7 linked regions of the Homo sapiens genome follow. The protein of the gene in region 3 purifies or fractionates together with the protein of the main gene of each other region. This does not show direct contact. Each region holds a gene or a part of one and is shown on either strand. Other genes may lie near its edges. The genes, in order: BTBD9, USP4, BSPRY, ANKRD17, KLHL23, RAB11B and MSLN.

The links.
Region 1: the proteins of BSPRY (region 3) and BTBD9 purify together in Homo sapiens (affinity purification with mass spectrometry; 2 studies listed by BioGRID and IntAct, with this or other methods). This does not show direct contact.
Region 2: the proteins of BSPRY (region 3) and USP4 purify together in Homo sapiens (affinity purification with mass spectrometry; 2 studies listed by BioGRID and IntAct, with this or other methods). This does not show direct contact.
Region 4: the proteins of BSPRY (region 3) and ANKRD17 purify together in Homo sapiens (affinity purification with mass spectrometry; one large-scale study listed by BioGRID and IntAct). This does not show direct contact.
Region 5: the proteins of BSPRY (region 3) and KLHL23 purify together in Homo sapiens (affinity purification with mass spectrometry; one large-scale study listed by BioGRID and IntAct). This does not show direct contact.
Region 6: the proteins of BSPRY (region 3) and RAB11B purify together in Homo sapiens (affinity purification with mass spectrometry; 2 studies listed by BioGRID and IntAct, with this or other methods). This does not show direct contact.
Region 7: the proteins of BSPRY (region 3) and MSLN purify together in Homo sapiens (affinity purification with mass spectrometry; one large-scale study listed by BioGRID and IntAct). This does not show direct contact.

What each region holds. Positions count from the first base shown.
Region 1 is NC_000006.12:38,633,430-38,636,929, forward strand, and holds part of BTBD9 (BTB/POZ domain-containing protein 9), read right to left. Parts: intron 1-3,500.
Region 2 is NC_000003.12:49,281,054-49,284,553, reverse strand, and holds part of USP4 (ubiquitin carboxyl-terminal hydrolase 4), read left to right. Parts: coding exon 1-88; intron 89-417; coding exon 418-567; intron 568-3,500.
Region 3 is NC_000009.12:113,366,541-113,369,131, forward strand, and holds part of BSPRY (B box and SPRY domain-containing protein), read left to right. Parts: intron 1-1,718; coding exon 1,719-1,843; intron 1,844-2,591. UniProt on the Homo sapiens protein: May regulate epithelial calcium transport by inhibiting TRPV5 activity.
Region 4 is NC_000004.12:73,077,299-73,080,798, reverse strand, and holds part of ANKRD17 (ankyrin repeat domain-containing protein 17), read left to right. Parts: intron 1-1,908; coding exon 1,909-2,157; intron 2,158-3,265; coding exon 3,266-3,444; intron 3,445-3,500.
Region 5 is NC_000002.12:169,736,832-169,740,331, forward strand, and holds part of KLHL23 (kelch-like protein 23), read left to right. Parts: intron 1-3,500.
Region 6 is NC_000019.10:8,400,360-8,402,646, forward strand, and holds part of RAB11B (ras-related protein Rab-11B), read left to right. Parts: intron 1-1,726; coding exon 1,727-1,920; intron 1,921-2,125; coding exon 2,126-2,206; intron 2,207-2,287. UniProt on the Homo sapiens protein: The small GTPases Rab are key regulators of intracellular membrane trafficking, from the formation of transport vesicles to their fusion with membranes.
Region 7 is NC_000016.10:759,432-763,533, forward strand, and holds the start of MSLN (mesothelin isoform 1 preproprotein), read left to right. Parts: upstream 1-1,302; 5' UTR 1,303-1,390; intron 1,391-1,641; 5' UTR 1,642-1,743; intron 1,744-3,240; 5' UTR 3,241-3,249; coding exon 3,250-3,334; intron 3,335-3,801; coding exon 3,802-3,845; intron 3,846-4,102. UniProt on the Homo sapiens protein: Membrane-anchored forms may play a role in cellular adhesion. Megakaryocyte-potentiating factor (MPF) potentiates megakaryocyte colony formation in vitro.

The sequences.
Region 1 (3,500 bases), on a different chromosome or scaffold from region 3:
TAGAAAGGGCCTTGCATAATGTAGCCATTAGATAAATAGCACCTTGTTTTTAATTACTCTTTTGCTTATATGCATTATGCATATACTTCCCAAATCAAGAAAATAGGGACACAGACTGCCAGAATATTTTTGTGTCTCATATTCAGATGCAAAGGCAGCCCAGGAGGTTAATGTGGACTTATGACATGTTATAATTTCTGAAACATTACAATAGCTTATGAGTTGCTGTTAAAACTGAACACTTAGCTGCTTAAGAAGCCAGAGTACCTAGTCTGTAATCAATATTTATACAGTACTTATCGTATTCTTTTTATTACTCCAAATATGTTCTTTCTCCTCTATCAAATTACAAATTTGATTGCTAAAAAAAAAATATACATCTCTATACGCGTCATGGCCCCATCCCTATACTCGTCATGGCCCCTTGAATACATAAGGCTGAATGAATTTAACTTCAAGTCCTCAATGTCTCTTCCTTCAATATAATCTTAAGATTATAAAAGTCAGGCTCCTTCACCCTGACAATATGCATACATGTGTGCACATTCCTTTCCCCAAGTAAAACCAGAATTAGGTGCACAAGGCAATTATTGTTTTCTCTATGCCCAGCACTTCACACGATTTCTGGCACACTATAAATGCTTAATGAATGTTAGCTGGGAGATAAATGAGAGAGAACAAGCACCTAGGCAGAATAGTGAGTAGCTAAGCTGTCAGTCATGAAGCTCCAATTTAACTCCAATTTCACTCCCTTTACAAATGTGTTTATAATTTTGCACAGCTACTGTTTTATTTCCTTATATAGTGGAACTCCCTTATAACTTCCTCTCACTAGGACTAACATGTGTGCTATATGCCAAAAGTCTTCAGTATATGAAACATGTAAAACCCAAAGAATATTGGCAAGCAAAGAATATGTCCTTAGATTCAGATTCTCTACATCCATGTTTCTGTGATTATACCTCTTCCTGTTTCTTTCCTGTGGGTTTTGCTCATTTCACCCATCTTATCTGTAAACTTCCCAGGAACAGGGAATATATTATTTGCTTCCCTTTTAAGACTCAATGTGCCTAATACAGGACACAGACTGGAATCCTGGCACATATTATTAAAAATTATTTTGCAAACTGGATTGTTCCTTTTTTTTAAAAAAAAAGGGGGGGGAGAGGGCATCTAACACAAAGTCAAATGCACATAGCTACACACCAGATATATGAAAGAAATTTTCTGTAGTTATTTTGTGTGTGTGTAAAATTAGAAATCATATCCTCCCCATGACTCATCAGAGATAAAAGAGGATAAATGAAATCTGTGTGTGAGGTACATGCCATCATGCACCAGGACAGTATTAAGCAGCTTCAAAGGTTATTGCTATGTATCAGGCATTATAATAGATTCTGGAGAAAACAAAAATAAGAATGAGATAAGCTCTACGAAATTGGAAATCAGACTGGTAGACCTAGAGAGTCTGGAGGCTGTTAAAATTCTTATTCTTCTCTAAACTATCTCCTGGTTCTCCATACACTTCAACCACTTTGTTAGTGCTGGTTCCTTTTCTTTCATCTATCCTCTAACAGCACCATCAGCATCACCTGGGAACTTGTTCAAAAATGCAATTTTTCAAGCCCCAGTCCACACCTACTTAATCAGAAACTATGGGGGTGGGACCCAGAAATCTGTGCTTTACCAAAGCCTCCAGCTATTTCTTTTTTTTTTTCTTTTTTGAGATGGAGTCTCGCTCTGTCACCTAGGCCGGAGTGCAGTGGCCTAATCTCGGCTCACTGCAATGTCCACCTCCTGGGTTCAAGCGATTCTCTTGCCTTAACCTCCTGAGTAGCTGGGATTACAGGTGTGCACCACCCCACCCAGCTAATTTTTATATTTTTAGTAGAGATAGGGTTTCACCATGTTGGCCAGGCTAGTCTCAAACTCCTGACCTCAAGTGATCCACCCACCTCAGCCTCCCAAAGTGCTGGAGTTACAGGCATGAGCCACCACACCTGGCCACCTCCAGGTCTACCCAATGCATTTTCAAATTTTAGAACTACTATGGTTTGCATGTGTCCTCCATGTGTTAGAGGAGACATGATTCCCCAATGCAACAGCAGTGAGTGGTGGGATCTTTAGTGATTAGGCCATGAAGACTCTTTTCTCATGAATGAATTAATGCCAGTAGAGTGGGAATAGGTTGACATGATCAGTTCAGCCCCCTTCCCTCTCTCTCTCACCCATGTGATGCCTTCTGCCATGTTATGACACAGCAAGAAGGCCCTCACCAGATACTGGCACATTGATCTGGGACTTCCTAGCCTCCAGAACTATCAGGAAATAAATTTCTGTTCTTTATAAATTAACCAGACTGTTCTTTATAAATTAAACTTAGATCAGTTCTTGTCTTAGTTTGTTTTGTGCTGCCATTATGAAACATAAAATATGAAATAGCAGCACAAAACAAAGACAAGAACTGATCCAAGTTTAAATACTGATTTAAACGTCCAAAAGTTCCATTCACCATCTTTTCCAGTTCTCACTCTCCATTTTTCTGGCATTGGGGCCTCTCCTACTATCTCTACATCTATAACTACTACTAACAATAACAGCAACAGCTGCCATTTATTATATTAAGCATCTATAAGACAGGCATTGTGTTAATCACTGTGCACATAGTACCTTTGTGTTAATCACTGTGCACATGTATAATCTCCACAATTCTTTAATTCAGATAAGAAGCCTAGGCTTAGAGAAGTTAAATAACTTGCCAAAGGTCAGCCAACCAATAAACAGCATAACAGAGATTTGACCTGCCATCTTCCTAACTCCAAAGTCCACTAAGTTAACTACTATACTAACATGCCTCCTAGAAGGTTGCTACTCCCACAGCCTCAGCGGACATCTATATTACAATTGTCCCTAACCATCTCATAAACTCTGAAGTAGCATTTCCAGTTACTTAGTGGATCTCTCTTTTTAAACTCCCCACAGAAACCTCAGAATTAACACTGCCATTATTTCTTCTCTCCACTTCAAACCTGTTCCTCTTCCTGTGATTTCTAACTTAATGTCATCATAAGCAAACAGTTGCTCAAACTAGACATATTATCTTTGACTTCTCACTCTCCCTTACCTCTAGCTGGTCATAAATGTAGAGATTTTAACATCTAAAAATGTCTCCAAAATCTATCCATTCCCATTGTCCAACATTTCTCACCTACACTCTAGTCTCCCTGCCTCTCTACTCTAATGCAATCTGCACACGAACTGTCAACTTTCTGATTATTCTACCTTCTATGGCTCTCCACTGCCAATGGATGGGAGGAGTCTAGACTTTTTAGGATGAAGTGGAAGACCCCCTCATAATTTGGCTCCAAAAACAGCTTCCTGCCTCATCACTTCCCCCATGCAATAAGAAGTGATTAGGCCCTCATGAATGGATGAATGCCATTATAGCAGGAATGGGTTCATTATCTCAGGAATGGGTTCTTGAGATGAGTTCAGCCCTC
Region 2 (3,500 bases), on a different chromosome or scaffold from region 3:
CTCAGAAGAAGAAGAAGACCACAGTGGCCCTGAGAGACTGCATCGAGCTCTTCACCACCATGGAGACCCTTGGGGAGCATGACCCCTGGTACGCAGCTCCTCACTGTCTGGGCAGAGGCCCCATGCACCCCAGGACTCAGATCTGCTAGGGCCATCTGTGCACATAAACCCCTTTGTATTTGGATGTGTCACTTCTTTATATAGCTAACCCTACAACATAATCCTCTGTGAGTTGAGGTTTCCAAGGAAAGCCGTCACCCCATTTTGGAAGACAGGTCCCTGGCCAGAAGCAGTAGTGTTGAGTGCTGACCGAGAGGATGGCAGCTATCAGGGGACTGCAGCTGTGCCTCCATGCATGAGTGCCCAGGTGGCACTGGCTGCCGGCTTGCCCTGCTAAGTGGAGGTTTCTCTTTTTAGGTACTGTCCCAACTGTAAGAAGCATCAACAGGCCACAAAAAAGTTTGACCTATGGTCCTTGCCCAAGATCCTGGTGGTCCACCTCAAACGTTTCTCCTACAACAGATACTGGAGGGATAAGCTCGACACAGTCGTAGAATTCCCAATCAGGTGGGTCATGGTGACTACAGTGTTAGGAACATTTAAAAACAGGCAGAAAATCTTGGCACTGATTGGCTGAGTGGTTTGCCACCAAAAACTTTTCTGAGTAAGGATGTGTGTTGCCGGGGTCTAGGAGGTCAGAGTTTAGCTGTAGTTACCCCTTCTGTCCCTATCCTCCCATCTTTGGGGAAGAGACTCTCCAGTGGAAGCATTTGCCCAGACACAGGCTGCTGCCAGTCACCCCTGCCACTGCTAGTTTCCCTCTCGAGTCACTTAGGCCACCTAACTGGCCTTCCTGTCCATCATCTGTCACAGGTAGCCTCACCTTAGCAGAGGCAGCACAACAGGGGACAAGGCAACCAAGAATAGCCTGTCAGGTAGAGTTGGGTTATTATTGGGGGCTGCAGGTGGGCTGCACACCTGCCATGATCCTGTCCCTGGGGTAGGGATTGGGACTGGCTGTCTACTCATATCCTCTCAAGCCCCACAGTACAGACTGTAACTAAGAACAGGAAAGTAAGTTAACAGATAGATGTTCCCTGGCTGGGCACAGTGGCTCACATATCATCAATTTGGGAGGCCAAGGTGGGAGGATCACTTGAGCCTAGGAGTTCAAAACCAGCCTGGACAACATAGAGAGACTTCCTCTCTACAAAAAATAAAAAATATATTTAAAAAAATAGGCTGGGCACGGTGGCTCATGCTTGTAATCCCAGCACTTTGGGAGGCCAAGGTGGGCAGATCACAAGGTCTGGAGATCGAGACCATCCTGGCCAACATGGTGAAACCCCATCTCTACTAAAAATGCAAAAGTTAGCTGGATGTGGTGGCGCACACCTGTGGTCCCAGCTACTCAGGAGGCTGAGGCAGGAAAATCGCCTGAACCTAGGAGGCAAAAGTTGCAGTGAGCCAAGATTGCACCACTGCACTCCAGCCTGGTGACAGAGCGAGACTCTATCTCAAAAAAAAAAAAAAAAAAAAAAAAAAGAGGCCGGCACAGTGGCTCACACCTGTAATCCCAGCACTGTGGGAGGCCAAGGTGGGTGGATCACTTGAGATCAGGAGCCGGAGAGTAGCCTGGCCAACATGGTGAAATCCTGTCTCCAGTAAAACTACAAAAATTAGCTGGATGTGGTGGTGCACGCCTGTAATCCCAGCTACTAGGGAGGCTGAGGCAGGAGAATTGCTTGAACCCACTAGGCGGAGGTTGCAGTGAGCCAAGATTGTGCCACTGCACTCCAGCCTCAGCAACAGAGCAAGCCCCTGTTTCCAAAAAAAGAAAAAAAAAAGGGAGTTGCCCACAAAATGTAGATTTTAAAATGCTTTCTGGGGGAAAGAATAGATACATGAAGTATAGCATGTCAGCAGGAGACGCCAGGTGATGGATAATAAGTATTTGTTGTAAAAATTCTTTATCTTGGCTGGGCGCAGTGGCTCACACCTGTAATCCCAGCACTTTGGGAGGCTGAGGTGGGCAAATTACGAGGTCAGGAGTTTGAGACCAGCCTGACCAACATGGTGAAACCCCATCTCTACTAAAAGTACAAAACAAAATTAGCTAGGCATGGTGGCGCATGCCTGTAATCCCTGCTACTTGGGAGGCTGAGGCAGGAGAATCACTTGAACCCAAGAGGCAGAGGTTGCAGTGAGTCAAGATCGCGCCACTGCACTCCAGCCCGGACGACACAGCGAGACTCCGTCTCAAAAAAAAAAAAATTCTTTATCTTTTCTGTGTGTTTGAAAATTTTTAAATAAAATATTGGAGGAAGAAAGCTTTCTGGGGCCTGTTTTGGTTGAGTTTAAATTATTATGGCACCAACTGTAATTCTGTTAAGAACAGCCATTTCTGCATACTTGCTGAAGCCCTCTGTGTGTATCTCTAGACCCTCATCACCATTTTGTCTGGTGCTGGAGTTACCCAGAAAGGTTCTCCCATTTTCTTTTGTTGTTGTTGTTGTTTTTTTTGTTTTGTTTTTGTTTTTTTTTGAGACCGTGTCTCACTCTGTCGCCAGGCCAGAGTGCAGTGGTGCGATCTCGGCTCACTACAACCTCTGCCTCCTGGGTTCAAGCAATTCTCCTGCCTCAGCCTCCTGAGTAGCTGGGACTACAGGCGCCTGCCACCATACCCAGCTAATTTTTGTATTTTTAGTAGAGACGGGGTTTTACCATGTTGGCCAGGATGGTCTCAAACTCCTGACCTCATGATCCACCCACCTTGGCCTCCCAAAGTGCTGGGATTACAGGCATGAGCCACTGTGCCCGGCCTTTTTTTTTTTTTTTTGAGACGGAGTTACGCTCTTGTTGCCCAGGCTGAAGTGCAATGGCACGATCTCGGCTCACTGCAAACTCTGCCTCCCAGGATCAATCGATTCTCCTACCTCAGCCTCCCAAGTAGCTAGGATTACAGGTGTGTGCCACCATGCCCGGCTAATTTGTGTGTGTGTGTATATATAAATGTATATATGTGTGTGTGTGTGTGTGTGTGTGTGTGTGTGTGTGTGTGTATATATATATATATACACATACTTTTTTTCTTTTTTGAGACGGAGTCTCGCTCTGTTGCCCAGGCTGGACTGCAGTAGTGCGATCTTGGCTCACTGCAAGCTCCACCTCCCGGGTTCACGCCATTCTCCTGCCTCAGCCTCCCGAGTAGCTGGGACTACAGGCGCCCACCACCACGCCCAGCTAATTTTTGTATTTTTTAGTAGAGACAGGGTTTCACCGTGTTAGCCAGGATGGTCTCAATCTTCTGATCTCGTGATCCGCCTGCCTTGGCCTCCGAAAGTGCTGGGATTACAGGTGTGAGCCACCGTGCGCGGCCTAATTTTTGTATTTTTAGCAGAGACGGGATTTCACCATGTTGGTCGGGCTCGTCTCGAACTCCTGATCTCAGGTGATCCACCTGCCTTGGCCCCCCAAAGTGCTGGGATTACAGGCATGAG
Region 3 (2,591 bases):
TTTTTCATTTCCACCCCTTTGGGGCCATGAGTTTTGTCTTCGGTACCATAGGGCAGCTAGCCCGGGTGGTTCGCTGTAGACTTCACTATGTTCAGCCTCACATTTGCCCTGGGATGACAGCTTAGCACCGCTGACATCAGCTCCTCTTTCTTCCCCACCTGTTGGCGGGAGCTCCTGCGTTCTGAGAAGATGGCAATAGACCCTCTGTTGTCCTGACCACAAAGAGCCTTTGTTACTAGAGCTTGCTCCCAGCATTTCTAAGGTTCTGTTCACCTTATACCTCCCAAGACAGAACAGTGACAGTCTTGCAAAGAGCCATCAGGGCACATGCCCCACCCCTGTGCCCACTCCATTTATGCACAGAGCCATGAGATATGGGGAGAGAGTGTGTGTACTCGGAACCACTGCCTGATCTCAACGCCATCTTCAGGATTGGAGGCAGTAGGAAAGGTCTTTCTCAGCACCTAGGTCAAAAGGCTGCAAAGCTCCATGGTAAACCCCTACTTTGCCCTATATTCCTTTGAGATTTCACTTCAGGTCAAGGAAAAAATTATGTTGAATGCTGCCTGGGCTTCATCCCAGTTTTGTTCTATTTTTGCATGGAGGCATGACTTGAATCTAGCTCCCCTTTTTAGCTCTGAATCTGTTCTGTCCTGTTAAATCAGATAACCACTACCTCCCAGGTTATAGCAAAGTTGAGGTATGATTCTGTAGAGAAAACAGCAAACCCAGGCCCTCACTGCTGATACATGGCAGTTTTCAACTCCTAGGCATCATATTGTCCCAAAATACCTCTCCAGCAAAACCCAGCCCCCATTGTGAGCTGAGGGGAGAGTTATTGAGAGCACACAGTGCCATGATTCATTTGTGGCTGGGGTGATAACTGATGGCCCTTTCCTCTGTGGACCCCTCAGGTGTTTGCATTTTTAAAGTAGAGGAGTGGCTGTACCTTCTGACAAAACCCAGGGAAACATGACTGCCCCAACAGGTCTGAGAGGGAGGTGAGATATTTTCCAGGCAAGGGCAAGATGTTGGAGTAGAAAGACTATCGTGCAGGGGTTCCAGAGGCCCAGGAGGTCTTAGCCCCAGCTCTGCCATTAACTTACTGAGGGACTCTGGCAAGTTGCTTCCTCTGCAGAGCACACCACCTTCAATTTCTAATACTGGCACCAAGAACACATCTTCCTATAAACTGTCCACCAGCTTTGCTAAAATTAAGGCTTCTGGGGGGCACAGGGGAAATGGCCACCTTCCCTTTTGGCCCAAGCACCTGTGTGGGGCCTGGATGCCACTCTTTTTTTTTTTTTTGAGACAGGGTCTCACTCTGTCACCCAGGCTGGAGTGCAGTGGCATGATCTTGGCTCACTGCAGCCTCGAACTCCTGGGCTTAAGCAATCTTCCCACCTCAGCCTCCCAGGTAGCTGGGACTACAGGTGCATGCCACCACACCCAGCTAATTTTTAAATTTTTTGTAGAGATGGAGTCTTATTATGTTGCCCATGCTGGTCTCAAACTCCTGGGCTCAAGTGATCCTCTCCCACATCAGGCCTTCCAAAGTGCTAGGGTCACAGGGGTGAGCCACTGCACCTGGCCCTAGCTGCCAATCTTGGTATCGCCTGATAGGAGATTTTACTTCTGTTCTTCTCTTCACCCCATATTGATCCAGATATATTTCCAGAACCATCCTGAATCTCTGTCTCTGTTTTTCCCCATATAAGGACCGAAGAAGCAGAGGGCATTTTGGATCCCCAGGAGTCGGAAATGTTAAACTTTAATGAGAAGTGCACTCGGAGCCCACTACTGACCCAACTCTGGGCAACGGCGGTTCTTGGGTCTCTCTCAGGTTAGGAGCAGTAGAGCCCAGGACCATTAGGACAACTGGGCTTCTGTCTGTCTGTCTGGGGTTCACTCCTGGTTCACAATGGGGACCCGTGCTTCTGAGATGATAGCTTAAACAAGTCATGCTGGATGCAGGCTGGTCAGTAGGGTCAAGGTTCCAGACAGGCCTGGGGCAGCTGGGCCAAGTCCTTCCCATTTCCGGACTAACATGTTCTGTGGTTGGGTCAAAGATAAATCTCATTCCTATAAGTCATGTCTTCCTTATATCCTGACCTACTAGGGCAGCCCAGTATTATTTATTGGAAACCTGGGGTTTCTCTTTAAGAAGATAAAATTGATGGCCAACTGAAGAACATCTGGACCAAGAATCAAACTGCCTGATTTGCCTCACTTATTCACTTTACACACACTGACTCAGGCCAACTGTGGGCCCCACCCTGTGCCACATGCTGGGGCCACAGAGGTAAACTGACATGGTCTTCTGCCTCCAGGAATTCCCATTTAGCACAGAGGTTCTCCAGAGCAGGCCTCCTCCAAGTTAGATGGAAGCTTCCATTCTCCCAATGGTAGTCTTTCACAATTCGTGGAACAGTTAGGTTAATAGACTGATTTTTTTTTTTTTTCAGTTTTAATCCTCCCTCCTCGTATTATCCTTACAATTTTGGTAGAAGCTGTAGCTTCTCTACTCTAGATTCTGGTATCAAATGATGCCTGATTTACCAGCAGTTTAGATATTTGCTAGAAATTGCTTA
Region 4 (3,500 bases), on a different chromosome or scaffold from region 3:
TGTTGTTATTTTGCTCTACTTTGGTTCTAGAAGGATACAGGAAATAAAAGGGAAACCAGAGTGAACACAGAGGTTAAGGTAGGCTCCCAGGGATGAACCTAGGGGAAAGCAGGATTCATTTGTTTATCCTTCTTTCCTTCCTGCCTGCCTGCCCTGACTATGTCTTGATGTTAGTTGTTCTGGGTTGATTTTTCCTAGAGGTTTAGGTGTGGCCTTTCAATATGTAGGTTTTTAAAAAACAAGCTTTTGTTATTTATCTTTGTGTTTACATTTACATGTCTGTGTATTCCTTGTAGTTTTTGTCTGTTTTCTACTGCATGTATAATTGCAGAATTTGGTTTTATTTGGTCTTTAGCTAAAATATTCTTTTACTTCTAACACTTTCCTGAGTTTTGTCATATTGTTTCCGTTTTACTAATTCTGAATTATGCTGTTCCTTCATATCATTTTCTTTTCGTTCATTTTTGAATTTTAGGTTATAGCTTTTTTTCTGGAGTGCTTTTATTGTCAACAGGAATGCTATAGGTCTTTCTCTTTTATCTTATATAATAGGCTTATTTGGAATTCAACTGCAGTTCTGTTGAATCTGCAGGTAACAGTTTTGATTTTTAAGCTTCAGACTCCTTTATTATTTATACCATTTTAGTTTAAATGTGCTTTAATATTTAAGCTTTTTTGGGAGGGGGAGGGGGGATGGAGTCATCTTGCTCTGTCACCCAGGCTGGAGTGCAGTGACACGATCTCGGCTCACTGCATCCTCCGCCTCCCGGGTTCAAGTGATTCGTCTGCCTCAGCCTCCTGAGTAGCTGGGACTACAGGCGCGTGCCACCACGCCCGGCTAATTTTTGTATTTTTAGTAGAGACAGGGTATCACCATATTGGCCCCTCGAACTCCTGATCCCATGATCCGCCCGCCTTGGCCTCCCAAAGTGCTGTGATTACAGGTGTGTGCCACCGCGCCCGGCCAATATTTAAGCTTTTCACATAAAATATAATTTTGGTTATTTTTGTTTTTTCTCAATAATGTATAGAGATTGAATCACTAATGAATAGTCTCAAATCAAGAAATCCACCTTGTTTGCATAAGTAAAAAAGATTCTCATTACCAAAAGCATGTTCTGTGAAGTACTCACAAGATAAAATAAAACAGACTTAGGCAATGATCCTCTTATTGGTATTTTATCAGTATATATAATGTTCTATAAACTTCAGTTCTAATTTGAAGAAACTTTTTTTTTTTAAACTGGACATGATGGCTCATCCCAGTAGTCCCAGCTGTTCAGGAGGTTGGGGTGGGAGGATCGCTTGAGCCCAAGAGTTTGAGGCTGCAGTGAGTTATGATCGAGCCTCTGCACTCTAGCCTGGACAATGGAGCAAGACTCTGTCTCCAAAAATACATAAATAAAATAAATAAAAAATGAATAAATAACAAAGAAACGTATTTCTTTTTCCTAGGCTAGGTTTTCCAAATTTATTAGATAGCTGAATCTCTTTTTCATCATAACACAAAGAGCAAGTATTCCCAGGGAATACAGTTTGGAGATTGCCACTACAGGCAGTGATTCTTACCCATCTCCATTCTGTTGTTGTTGGTTTGTTTTTTAATTTAAATGTCTTATTGCTTGCTACATTTTACTTAATGTCAAGGGTTAATTCATTTGAATATTATTTAATTTAATGGTTTATTACCTTTGTAGTTGAACATTTTGCAGCATTGACATCATATTCTACCTTGAAGTCATGGAACTTTAGCCAAATTTTAATATGCATCATTTTTAAGTATTATTTTTACACTTTGTTTTTCTGAGAATATATATTTAAAACATCTCCTGGTTTTAAGATTTGGTTTTATAAAATTACATGTTCTATAGATGACCTGTATTTTATTTCAAAATATCTCTTCTCTAGATTCTTCTGCACAGTCAGTATCCTCGGGAGTTCGTGCACCATCTCCTGCCCCATCATCAGTACCGTTAGGGTCAGAAAAGCCCAGCAATGTGTCTCAGGACAGGAAAGTTCCAGTCCCTATTGGGACTGAACGTTCTGCACGTATCAGGCAAACTGGAACGTCAGCTCCATCTGTTATTGGGAGCAATTTGTCTACATCAGTAGGACATAGTGGCATCTGGTCCTTTGAAGGGATTGGTGGCAATCAAGGTAGGATATTCTGTCCTGCTCTCTAGAAATTAACTTAATGCATTTAACTATAATGTAAACAGTATTTAACTTTAATAGTCATTTCCTTTTTTTTTTTCTTTTTTTGAGATGGAGTTTCACTTGTTGCTCAGGCTGGAGTGCAATGGGGTGATCTTGGTTCACTGCAACCTCCACCTCCCCGGTTCAAGCGATTCTCCTGCCACAGCCTCCCAAGTAGCTGGGATTACAGGCATGCGCCACCATGCCCAGCTAATTTTTTTTTTTTGAGACGGAGTCTCGCTCTGTAACCCAGGCCGGACTGCAGCGGCACAATCTCTGCTCACTGCAAGCTCCGCCTCCCGGGTTCATGCCATTCTCCTGCCTCATCCTCCCAAGTAGCTGAGACTACAGGCGCCCGCCACCACGCCCGGCTAATTTTTGTATTTTTAGTAGAGACGGGGTTTCACCGTGTTAGCCAGGATGGTCACGATCTCCTGACCTTGTGATCCGCCCGCCTCGGTCTCCCAAAGTGCTGGGATTACAGGCGTGAGCCACTGTGCCCCGCCTGTATTTTTAGTAGAGACAGGGTTTCACCATGTTGATCAGGCTGGTATCAAACTCCTGACTTCAAGTGACTCACCCACCTCAGCCTCCCAAAGTGCTGGCATTACAGGCATGAGCCACCACGCCCAGCCTCGTAGTCATTTCTAAAAGATCTGTATTCCTATTTTTTTTGTTATGTGAATATTTAATCACTTCTTTATGAGCTCTGTCCCCATGTGACCTTTCTCATTACATGTATTTATTACTGCTTTCAGAAAATATCTAATGCAAGCATGTTCTTTTCTTCCTTTCATCATATTAAGGACATAATAATATTTCCTTTCAGTCCCTTTAGGTTGTACTTAGGTTTTTTTCTTTTGTTTTATAACACCAAGTTTTTAGATTATTTCATTAAGCTATTATGTCACTACTTACAAACCATGGAAATATTGCTGTAAATATATAAAAGTAGGTCATTATATTGAAATAATTTACGGTTCAATGTGGAAAATATTAGAAAAACAAAATATTTGATTTTGATTTTAAATATTATCTATTTTTGTTTTGCCTCTTTGTTTGCCCTCAGACAAAGTAGACTGGTGTAACCCTGGGATGGGAAATCCTATGATCCACAGACCGATGTCTGACCCAGGAGTATTTTCACAACATCAAGCAATGGAGCGAGATAGTACAGGAATTGTAACTCCTTCTGGTACATTCCATCAGCATGTTCCTGCAGGCTACATGGACTTTCCTAAAGTTGGGGTAAAGTCCTGATTTTGTACTAGTTATTTAAGGGAGGATTTTCTGAGAAAATGTTT
Region 5 (3,500 bases), on a different chromosome or scaffold from region 3:
ATTTATTCATTGGTGCTGAGGAGTTGTACAAAAACAACTGGTAGGTCGTTACCAAATTTGTATCATTTTGTCCCAAATGTTTCTTCCCAGGCTTTTCTGTTTCTTTTTTAATGCTAGTGAGAGTGTGGGAATTTGACCTGGTCTGGAAATCTGACCTGGTATGATCCTTGGATGACAGGCAGGAAGCTGAGAGGCAGAACAGTCTTGGGATCAGGCACGCTGCCTCTGAAGCTAAACTGCCTGCATCCAGATCCCTGCTTTCCTCTTACTTGCTGATGAGCTCTGGCAAATTGTTTAATCACCCTGTGCCCCCGTTTTGTCATCTGTATAATGGGGATGACAATATTACCTAGTCTCGGATCATTGAGAGGATTAAATTAATCTATGCTTGTGAAGTGCCTAGAACAGTGTCTGACACAGAGTAAGCATGCTATAAATGTTACGCATGATTGTCCTGAATGTCGGTATTGAAGGACATGTCAGCTCTTATAGAGCAGAAATTGATTTCATGTGAAGTTGTGACCACTGTCACACCAGGGTGGGAGAAGGTAGCAGAAAGCCCGGTGCTGTTGCTCCCCTGGTTTTTGTCTTTGCCTGAGTCTCACCACTACTTGCCGATTCCAGGAGGGCTCTGAATGTCCTGACCCCTCTTCTGCAAAAGAAATAAGAAAAGTCCATATATTTAAGGAGCTATTGTAAACTAGCATACATTTCTGATTCTGTTTTTTAAGGATGATATAACAGTTTCAATGGTTTTGTGGTTCAGAGTATATTTCTTTTTCTTTTTCTTTTTTTTTTTTTGAGATGGAGTCTCACTCTGTCTCCCAGGCTGGAATGCAGTGGCGTGATCTTGGCTCACTGCAACCTCTGCCTCCCGGGTTCAAGCAGTTCTCCTGCCTCAGCCTCCTGAGTAGCTGGGATTACAGGCATGTGCCACCACACCTAGGTAATTTTTGTATTTTTAGTAGAGACGGGGTTTCACCATGTTGGCCAGGCTGGTCTTGAACTCCTGACCTCAAGTGATCCCCCCACCTTGGCCTCCCAAAGTGCTGGGATTACAAGGGTGGGTTCAGAGTATATTTCTTTGAGAATGAAAGCTTATTACTTTACTGAAATTTTAAAAATTTATATTTAGAACAGTGCTTGTTGAAAAAAGATATGCTGCGATGGTGTATCTACTGTGAAACAAAAGCCATATGCATGCTTGCGTTAACCTTGAGTGGAGTAGGAGACCCTCATACCTCAAAGTCCTCCCTCACCTGCTAACTGGGTCTGAAATTCCAGTTTTATACTTTGAACTCAAAGCTTTGATTCTTGTTTATATCTAGTCATCCCAGGGAGAGGTAACACTGCCAGTTATGTGCAGTTTTGACTACTGCTTGTTTTGGTGGGTGGACTCATACAGAACTTTTTTTAAACAATTTTTAAAATTTTATTTTTAATTTTTAAAACTAGAAATGGCGGGGGGTCTCACTATGTTGCCCAGGCTGGTCTTGAACCCCTGGCCTCAAATGATTCTCCTACCTTGGCCTCCCAAAGTGCGGGGATTATAGGTGTGAACCACCACACCCAGCCATACTGAACTTTTAGATTCCCATTTTTTGGTAGAAAGGATAACATTTTTTTCAATTCGTTTTATTTTGTAGCCTTGAAGTGAAATAGCAGCTTTCTCTGGTAATAAACTTAATTTGGGTACAGTCAAATTTAAAATTTATTACCTTTTTTTGGTCCTGGACCCAAATTAAGTTCACTAATGTACAGAGAATAAATAAATACTTGGCTGTTTAGGAACTCCTGAATCTTTATTTTTTTCCATCATAACTGCTCTACTTATAAATCCACTTTTATTTTGGAATAGAAAGGAACAAGAAGATTGAACTGTATCATGCAAAATGGTGCTAGGTAAAAGTTAGTGGAAAGACAAAACCAACGTTTTCAACTAAAATGATCCTCATCATCTTTCTTCCTTTCTTCATCTTCCCTCCAAACCTATTTCCTCCCCCTCCTCCCCCTCCCCTTCCTCACCCTCCCCTCTCTTCCCCCTTCCCCTCCCTCTCCTCCCTATCTCCCTTTCATGTTTCGCCTATCTTCCTCTTTCTTCCTCCTCCTTCCCTCTCCTCCCCCTCCTCCCTCTCCTCCCCCTTCCCCTCCCCCTCCCCCTCCTCCCCTTCCCCTCCCCCATCTCCTCTCCCTCCTTCTGCCTTCTTCTTCCTCCTCCTCCTTCCCCTCCCTCTCCTTCCCCTCCTCGACTTCCCCCACCCCTCCTTGTTTTGGCATCAGTGATTCCAGTTTTTCCAGCTCAGGACCTCAAAATCGGTTTGGTTTGCCTCTGCGTCAGTCAGTCATCAAGACCTGTGTGTTTTACCTGTCTCTTTCCTCTATGCTCTTCCCTCCATACCCAAAGCCCCTTCAAAATCAGGCCCTCGAGACCGCCCACCCTGGCCAGTAACTAGATCTTTCTGGTACCTGTTCTTCCTTTGTTAGTTGCTCTATTCCTCTGTTTAAAAACCTTTAAAATCTGGCTGAATTAAATCCAGATTCTTTGTTGGGCATCAGTAAGTATCCTTTGCTACATGGCTTCAACTTACCATGCCAGCCTTAAAGTCCCATGCAACAACCCTCAATGTGCCACCTGCCCTGGTCAAACTGGGCTACTTAACATTGTCCAGTAAGCCTTTGCACTGGCTTTTCCCTCTGTCTAGAATGGCCTCCTCTCATCTATACTTGCCAACTTCCTACCATCACCCAGGTCAAATTCCACCACCACCTGCTGTGATTTCCCTCGTCAAATGCAGTGTTTTCTTGCCCTGACCATGCCCAGCAGTTCATCTGTCCCTTTTTTCATGGTGTTTCTTCCATTTTATATCTAGTGTTCTAATTACAGCCATGTGCCACTTAACAATGGGGATATGTTCTGAGAAATGTGTGATTAGGCAATTTTGTCATGTGAACGTTATACTTAAACAACAGGCTATACCATACTAATTCTACAGCCTAATACACACCTAGGCTGTGTGGTATAGCCTGTTACTCCTAGGCTTCAGACCTGTACAGCATGTTACTATACTGAATATTCTAAGCAGTATAACACAATGGTAAGTCTTTGTGTATCTAAACATAGAAACAGTACAGTAAAAATACAGCATAAAAGATAAAAATGGTAGACCTATTTGGGGCACTTACCATGAATGGAGCTTGCAGGACTGGAAGTTGTTCTGGTTGAGTCGGTGAGTAAGTGGGGAGGGATTGTGAAGGCCTAGGACATTACTGTACACTACTGTAGACTTTTTACTTTTTTTGAGACAGGGTCTTGCTCTGACACGTACGCTGGACTGCGGTGATGTAAACATAGCTCACTGCAGCCTTGACCTCCTGAGATCAAGCAATCCTCCCACCTCAGCCTCCCGAGTAGCTGGGACTACAGGCACATGCTATCACACGTGGCTACTTTTTTATTTTTTGTAGAGATGTGGTCTCACTTTGTAGTCCAAGCTGGTCTC
Region 6 (2,287 bases), on a different chromosome or scaffold from region 3:
TTCCCTCCTCACTGGTGCCCACACCTGGTCCCACACGCCTCCTGTCCTCCCACCTGGGCCTGGCCTCCATTCCCTGCAAAGGCTTCCCAGCCATCAGGACCCACTCAGCTGCCTTTTTCTGGACCCCTCCCAAGCCCCCCAGCCATTCCCACCACCGTCTTGAGATCCTCTGGGCTCCCTCCCATCTCCTTCATCCCTCAGGTACATCTGTCTCTCTGTCACCTCCTCTTGTTTTTTTTTTTTTGAGATGGAGTTTCACTCTTGTCGCCCAGGCTGGAGTGCGATGGCACGATCTCGGCTCACTGCAACCTCCGCCTCCTGGGTTCAAGCGATTCTCCTGCCTCAGCCTCCCAAGTAGCTGGGATTATAGGCACATGCCGCCATACCAGGCTAATTTTGTATTTTTAGTAGAGATGGGGTTTCTCCACATTGGTCAGGCTGGTCTCAAACTCCCGCCCTCAGGTGATCCACCCTCTCGGCTTCCCAAAGTGCTGAGATTACAGGTGGCGTGAGCCACCGTGCCTGGCTGTCGCCTCCTCTTTTTTGGAGACAGACAGGGTCTTGCTCTGTCGCCCAGGCTGGAGTGCAGTGCCACAATTGCAGCTCACTGCCCCCTTGACCTCCCAGGCTCAAGCGATTCTCCTGCCTCAGCCTCCTGAGTAGCTGGGGCTACAGGCCTGTGCCACCATGCCTGGCTAATTTAATTAATTAATTTATTTATTTTTTAGTTTTAGTTTTTGAGACAGAGTCTCACTCTGTCGCCCAGGCTGGAGTGCAGTGGCGCAGTCTCAGCTCACTGCAAGCTCTGCCTCCCAGGTTCACGCCATTCTCCTGCCTCAGCCTCCTGAGCAGCTGGGACTACAGGCGCCCACCACCACGCCTGGCTAATTTTTTGTATTTTTAGTAGAGATGGGGTTTCACCGCATTAGCCAGGATGGTCTCGATCTCCTGACCTCATGATCTGCCCGCCTCGGCCTCCCAAAGTGCTGGGATTACAGGCGTGAGCGACCCTGCCTGGCCTATTTATTTATTTTTTTGAGATAGAGTCTCACTCTGTCATCCAGACTGAAGTGCAGTGTCACAATCTCGGCTCACTGCAACCTCCGCCCCCCGCCCCCCAGGGTTCAAGCAATTCTCCTGCCTTAGCCTCCCGAGTAGCTGGGATTACAGGCGCCTGCCACCACGCCTGGCTAATTTTTGTATTTTTAGTAGAGATGGGGTTTCACCATCTTGGCCAGGCTGATCTTGAATTCCTGACCTCGTGATCCACCTGCCTCGGCTTCCCAAAGTGCTGGGATTACAGGCATGAGCCACGACCCCCGGCCAATTTTTGTGTTTTTCTAGTAGAGATGGGGTATCGCCATGTTGCCCAGGCTGGTCTGAAACTCCCAGCCTCAAGTGATCCACCCGCCTCAGCCTCCCAAAGTGCTGGGATTACAGGCATGAGCCACCATGCCCAGCCCCTTCTTCCCTTTTTTTGATGACCTCACGGTATCTTCTATTTCCAGCTCCCAAACTCCCTCCTCAGACCCCCACATTTCAGAGCTGGATCCAGGGAGCAGCGCTGGGGCCTCCAGACACACACCCTTCCCTTGAGGCCACAATGACTGCCCCTTGGCTCGGCCCTGGACGACCCACCCTGGGCGTGATGTGTGCTGTTATCCCGTGAGGCTGCCGCTGCCCATGGTTGTCCTCCAGAGAGGCTCATGGGCCCCTGACCCTGCAGGTACTACCGTGGTGCAGTGGGCGCCCTGCTGGTGTACGACATCGCCAAGCACCTGACCTATGAGAACGTGGAGCGCTGGCTGAAGGAGCTGCGGGACCACGCAGACAGCAACATCGTCATCATGCTGGTGGGCAACAAGAGTGACCTGCGCCACCTGCGGGCTGTGCCCACTGACGAGGCCCGCGCCTTCGCAGGTGAGCAGACGGAGACGCAGGCATCAGAGAGGTGTCTGGAAGGCAGGAGGCCCCTCACAGTGTTGGGGCCCTGGCCACAGCCCTGGCTTCCCTTCCCTGAGGAGTGGCCTTGGGATGGGCCAGGTGGGTGGGCGGGGTCCCTGAGAGCATGTGGGAGCCTGTCACCCTGCCTCCCCACTCACCTAGGCAGTATTCTTTGTTCCAGAAAAGAACAACTTGTCCTTCATCGAGACCTCAGCCTTGGATTCCACTAACGTAGAGGAAGCATTCAAGAACATCCTCACAGGTGGCCGGGGACCAGATGGGTGTGGGTAGGGCACCAGCCAGGCAGGGTGGAACACGGCCTCTGAACCTTCGCTTGTTTTGT
Region 7 (4,102 bases), on a different chromosome or scaffold from region 3:
CCTGGACCCTCCTCGGCTCCTTCAGTTCAGGGCTCAGCTGGGCACGTGGGCGCCTCCTTGGCTCCTCCGGCTCAGGCCTCTCCTCGAGCTCTGGGCCCTGAGTATTCTGGGCTCCTTCCTTGGTTTCCTTTGGCCTTTGGCCGGGAAAGTTGTGGGTGTCCGTGGCAGCCTGGGCCACTTCACAGCCCCGCAGCCAACCTGCGGCTCCTTCAGAGCAAAGCTGTGTGGACACAAAGGGAACGCCACTCGGAGCTGGCCTCTCCCTTTACCTGTGAGTTCCCGCCCAAGCCGGCTGCCTTCTGTCCCCTCCCCAGAGCCCTTGGGTAACTGGTTTGCTACAAGAGTGTCTGGAATTTTTCAGTTGTTCTCTGCGGAAGGGAGTTTTTAAAAGGCCCTTAATCCCTTCTTGACATTTGTAAGTTGACGCTTACACCTGGCAGCCTTGCTGAATTCTGTGTGCGTGAAGGTCCGATTCCACCGCGAGTCACGATAGAAAACCCACTCTGTGGAGAGACCAGAGATGACCGCCGCGCACACCTCCGTTCAGCACACAAACCTTTGCAGGTGTTCATAGCGGAGGCAGATTCCGTACTGGGGATAAGAGCTCACGACATGCTGGGAGGGGTTTCAGGGGCAGGGAGGGGGCTTCTGTGGCCCCAGGTCAGGAGGAGCAGCTCTTCCATCAGCAGCAGGCAGCCAGCCCAGATGCGTAGGGAAGACAGCTCCCACTTCGCCAGGCCAGAGAGCGCCCGGGGGCAGCTCTGTTCCAGTCGACCCTGCGAGAAAGGGGTGTGCGTGTGCCTGGAGCTGGGCCCCGTCCTGCCTCCCTGACCTGTGTGCTCCCACAGCCCTGAGACGGACGGCTCACAGCCTTGCGAGGCCCACACTGCACTGGGGGTCAGGCTTGTGCTCCCGGGAGTCCTGTCTGGGCTGCGTGGCCACCATCCAGAGCCTGCTGACCTGCGACTGGGGGGGCCAGTGCTCCCTGGGTTTCAGCACCTGAGAATCAGAGTGGGATCCCGTGAAACCTGGGCCCAGGCTCCCACCCACGCCCCACACCCACCCAGGGAAGCCATGAAACCTGGGCCCGGGCTCCTACACATGCCCCACACCCACCCAGGGCAGCCGTGAAACCTGGGCCCGGGCTCCCACCCTCGCCCACCGAGGGCAGCTTTGCCTTCCTGGGCATCCCTCCTCCCCCAGGCCTGGCCCGCTGCCTGTCCAAGGCTCCTGTGCGGGGTCTCCACCCACACATTCCTGGGGCGTGAGGCGCCACCACTCCCTGCTGCCCCGGGCAAAGCCGTCATTTGTTCCCTTTGACGGCCCGGGAGGCTGCCAGGCTCTCCACCCCCACTTCCCAATTGAGGAAACCGAGGCAGAGGAGGCTCAGGTGTGGCCAATCACCCTGCACATCAGAGTTACCCTGGGCAGGGCCCACTGAGACCTGGGAGGGGCCACTCGGGACCTGGAGGGCTGGGGGCTGCCCGGGCGTTAGGGGTAAAGCTCCCTACCCAACTGCGCAGAAGGCCTCAGAGGCCTGGGGGCTGGGCTTCCCCTTTCACATCGCCCTTTAGAGGCCCACGTGTGGGCATTGGCCCGCGATCTGAAAGGGGCTGTCCTGTTCCTCATGGGCGCTGCCAGCGCCACGCACTCCTCTTTCTGCCTGGCCGGCCACTCCCGTCTGCTGTGACGCGCGGACAGAGAGCTACCGGTGGACCCACGGTGCCTCCCTCCCTGGGATCTGTAAGTAACAACCTTTGAGCTCTTCCTGTTGTGGTGTGGATGGAATCTGCACCTTCCATCTGGAGAACTGGGGCCGCCCCAGGCCGGGCTTCCAGCACCAGAGCGATGGTCAGGCTTCAGCTGGACGCAGATTTCACCCCGCAGGGCACACGCAGACCCATTTGTTTGGAAGCGGCAGTCCTAAGGCAGTGCAGGTGCCTCCACGGCCCCAGCCCAGCTCTCCTGCAGGTGTAAAGGATGCAGATTCCAGGGCCCCCCATGGCCTGCAGAGGCCCCTCAGAGCAGGAAGGGCCGGGCTCTCGGGGAGCCCCCATCCCAGGTGCTGAGGTCCTTGGGTCACATGGAGCTGGGGTGGGGAGTGCCCAGGTCCCCTGTGATCCGATGGCCACGTTTCCCTCCTGGCTTCACGCACCCCAAGGGCTGGGGGTCCCACTCACTGCCCATTTTCTGGCTGTGGGGGGGGTCTGTTTTCTTCCACCTTCTCAAGGTGTTCAGAGCCTCAGGGGCCTCCCCACTTCCTCTGGGGCCTGGGGGAGTAGAGTCTGTCACCCGGAGGCTGTGTGCCTCCCCGCGACATTCCCCAGTGGCCGGGCCGACCAGGCAGGCTCTGCCTGTGGATGGGGCTGCTGAGCATGAGCGTGTGACCCCCATTTCTGAGCTGTGGGTGGACCCACCGGGCCTGGGCCAAGGTTTTCAGGAGGCAGCTCTATTCTACTCCGCCATGGTGGCCTCCCTGAAAGGGGTGAGTGTAGAAGCCAGTTCCCTCTTCTGCGAGCCCCACCCCTACCCCAGGAGGACAATTCTTGTTCAGGGAGGGTCTCCCCACCCACTTCCCCACCCCACAGTGGCCCACAGGCCCCACCCTAGAGAGTACAAGGGGCTCCCCAGGCTGCTCACTGGCCCAGCCCCGCCCCACCTGGACTGCACCTGAAAATGGGCTCAGAGAGGCCAAGTGGCCCAAAAAGACGCTGCTGGGTGGGAAGGGGCGGTGGCCTCTGTGCCCGCAGTGCCCCTCCTGCCTCAAGGGTGTTGTCTGCCTGGCAGAGCCTGGGGTGTTCACAAAGCCCAGGCACCTGCAGCTGAGGGCAGGGGAGAGGGAAGGGAGCCACATCCAGGCGACGGGGCTGCTCGTCCTCCTGTGCGAGAGTGGGGAGACTCAGGCCAGCCCAAGTGGGCGGCGGCCCCGGTTGCTTGATCTAAGCTCTGCTCACACTGCCCTGCCCTTCTGGGAGAGGGGTGGGCGCCAACTGACTCCTGGGCTGTCTGGGCTGGGGACCGGGATCTCAGACCCAGCCCCTCCCCTGGACAGGAGGAGCCAGTCCAGGGGACAGAGGGCTCAGTGGCTGGAGGGCAGGGCCAGGGTGCGGACACAAGCTGCAGGTACCACAGAAGTTTGCTCTGGGAGCCCCTCCTGGGCCCATGTGGCCCCAGGCTGGCCCAGGACAGAGGCGTGGGGTGGGAGCAGGGGGTCCCATCCTGAGTCACTGCCCTCCACAGACACAGACCATGGCCTTGCCAACGGCTCGACCCCTGTTGGGGTCCTGTGGGACCCCCGCCCTCGGCAGCCTCCTGTTCCTGCTCTTCAGCCTCGGTGCGTACTTGATGGGGCTGCTGGTGAGGTGGGGACGGCCCAGGGGCCTTGGGGGCCAGGCCCCCAGCAAGGCTTTGCCTGCCCCTGCCTTCTCCCTGGAGTGCCTGTGGTGGCCACGTCTCAGCAGCAGTCTCTGCCCCCAGAGGTGACTGGAGCTGGAGATCCAGCCAGGGAGTGATGGGGCTCAGGACACAGTGGGGATGTCTGTGGGATGGGTGGTCTGACCGGCCAAGCAGCCGGGTCTCAGGGAAAGATGTGGAAGGCCGGGCTCCCTGGTGGAGTCCCGACCCCTGTGCCTGGGGGACTGTGATGTCACGGGGTACATGGGCCTGAGCCACTGGCTTCTCTTTGGGGTGTGCACAGGGCTGGCTGTGGGGGCGGCCAGGCTCTGCCTCCTTCCTCCCCTGGGTCAGGGCACAGCCCAGAGGCCCGCCCCCTCCCCCAAGCTGTCCCCTCTGCCCCTTTAGGATGGGTGCAGCCCTCGAGGACCCTGGCTGGAGAGACAGGGCAGGTAAGGTCCCCTCTGGGGAAACAGGGGAGGGTCTTCAGGTCCCAGGTGGGGGTGCCATGCTGTGTTCTCTCTGTCACGTATCCACGGTGCTTGCCAGTTTCCACGGTCCTTGCTTGCAAAGGGGCACCTGGACCTGCATGTGACTGGCCTGGGAGCAGCCAGGTCCAGGGAGCGGCAGAGCTGAAATTGCAGCTGGGTCTGGGAAGTAGATGGATGAGAAGCAGCCAAGCCCATGGGTCTGAGACACAGCCAGGCCT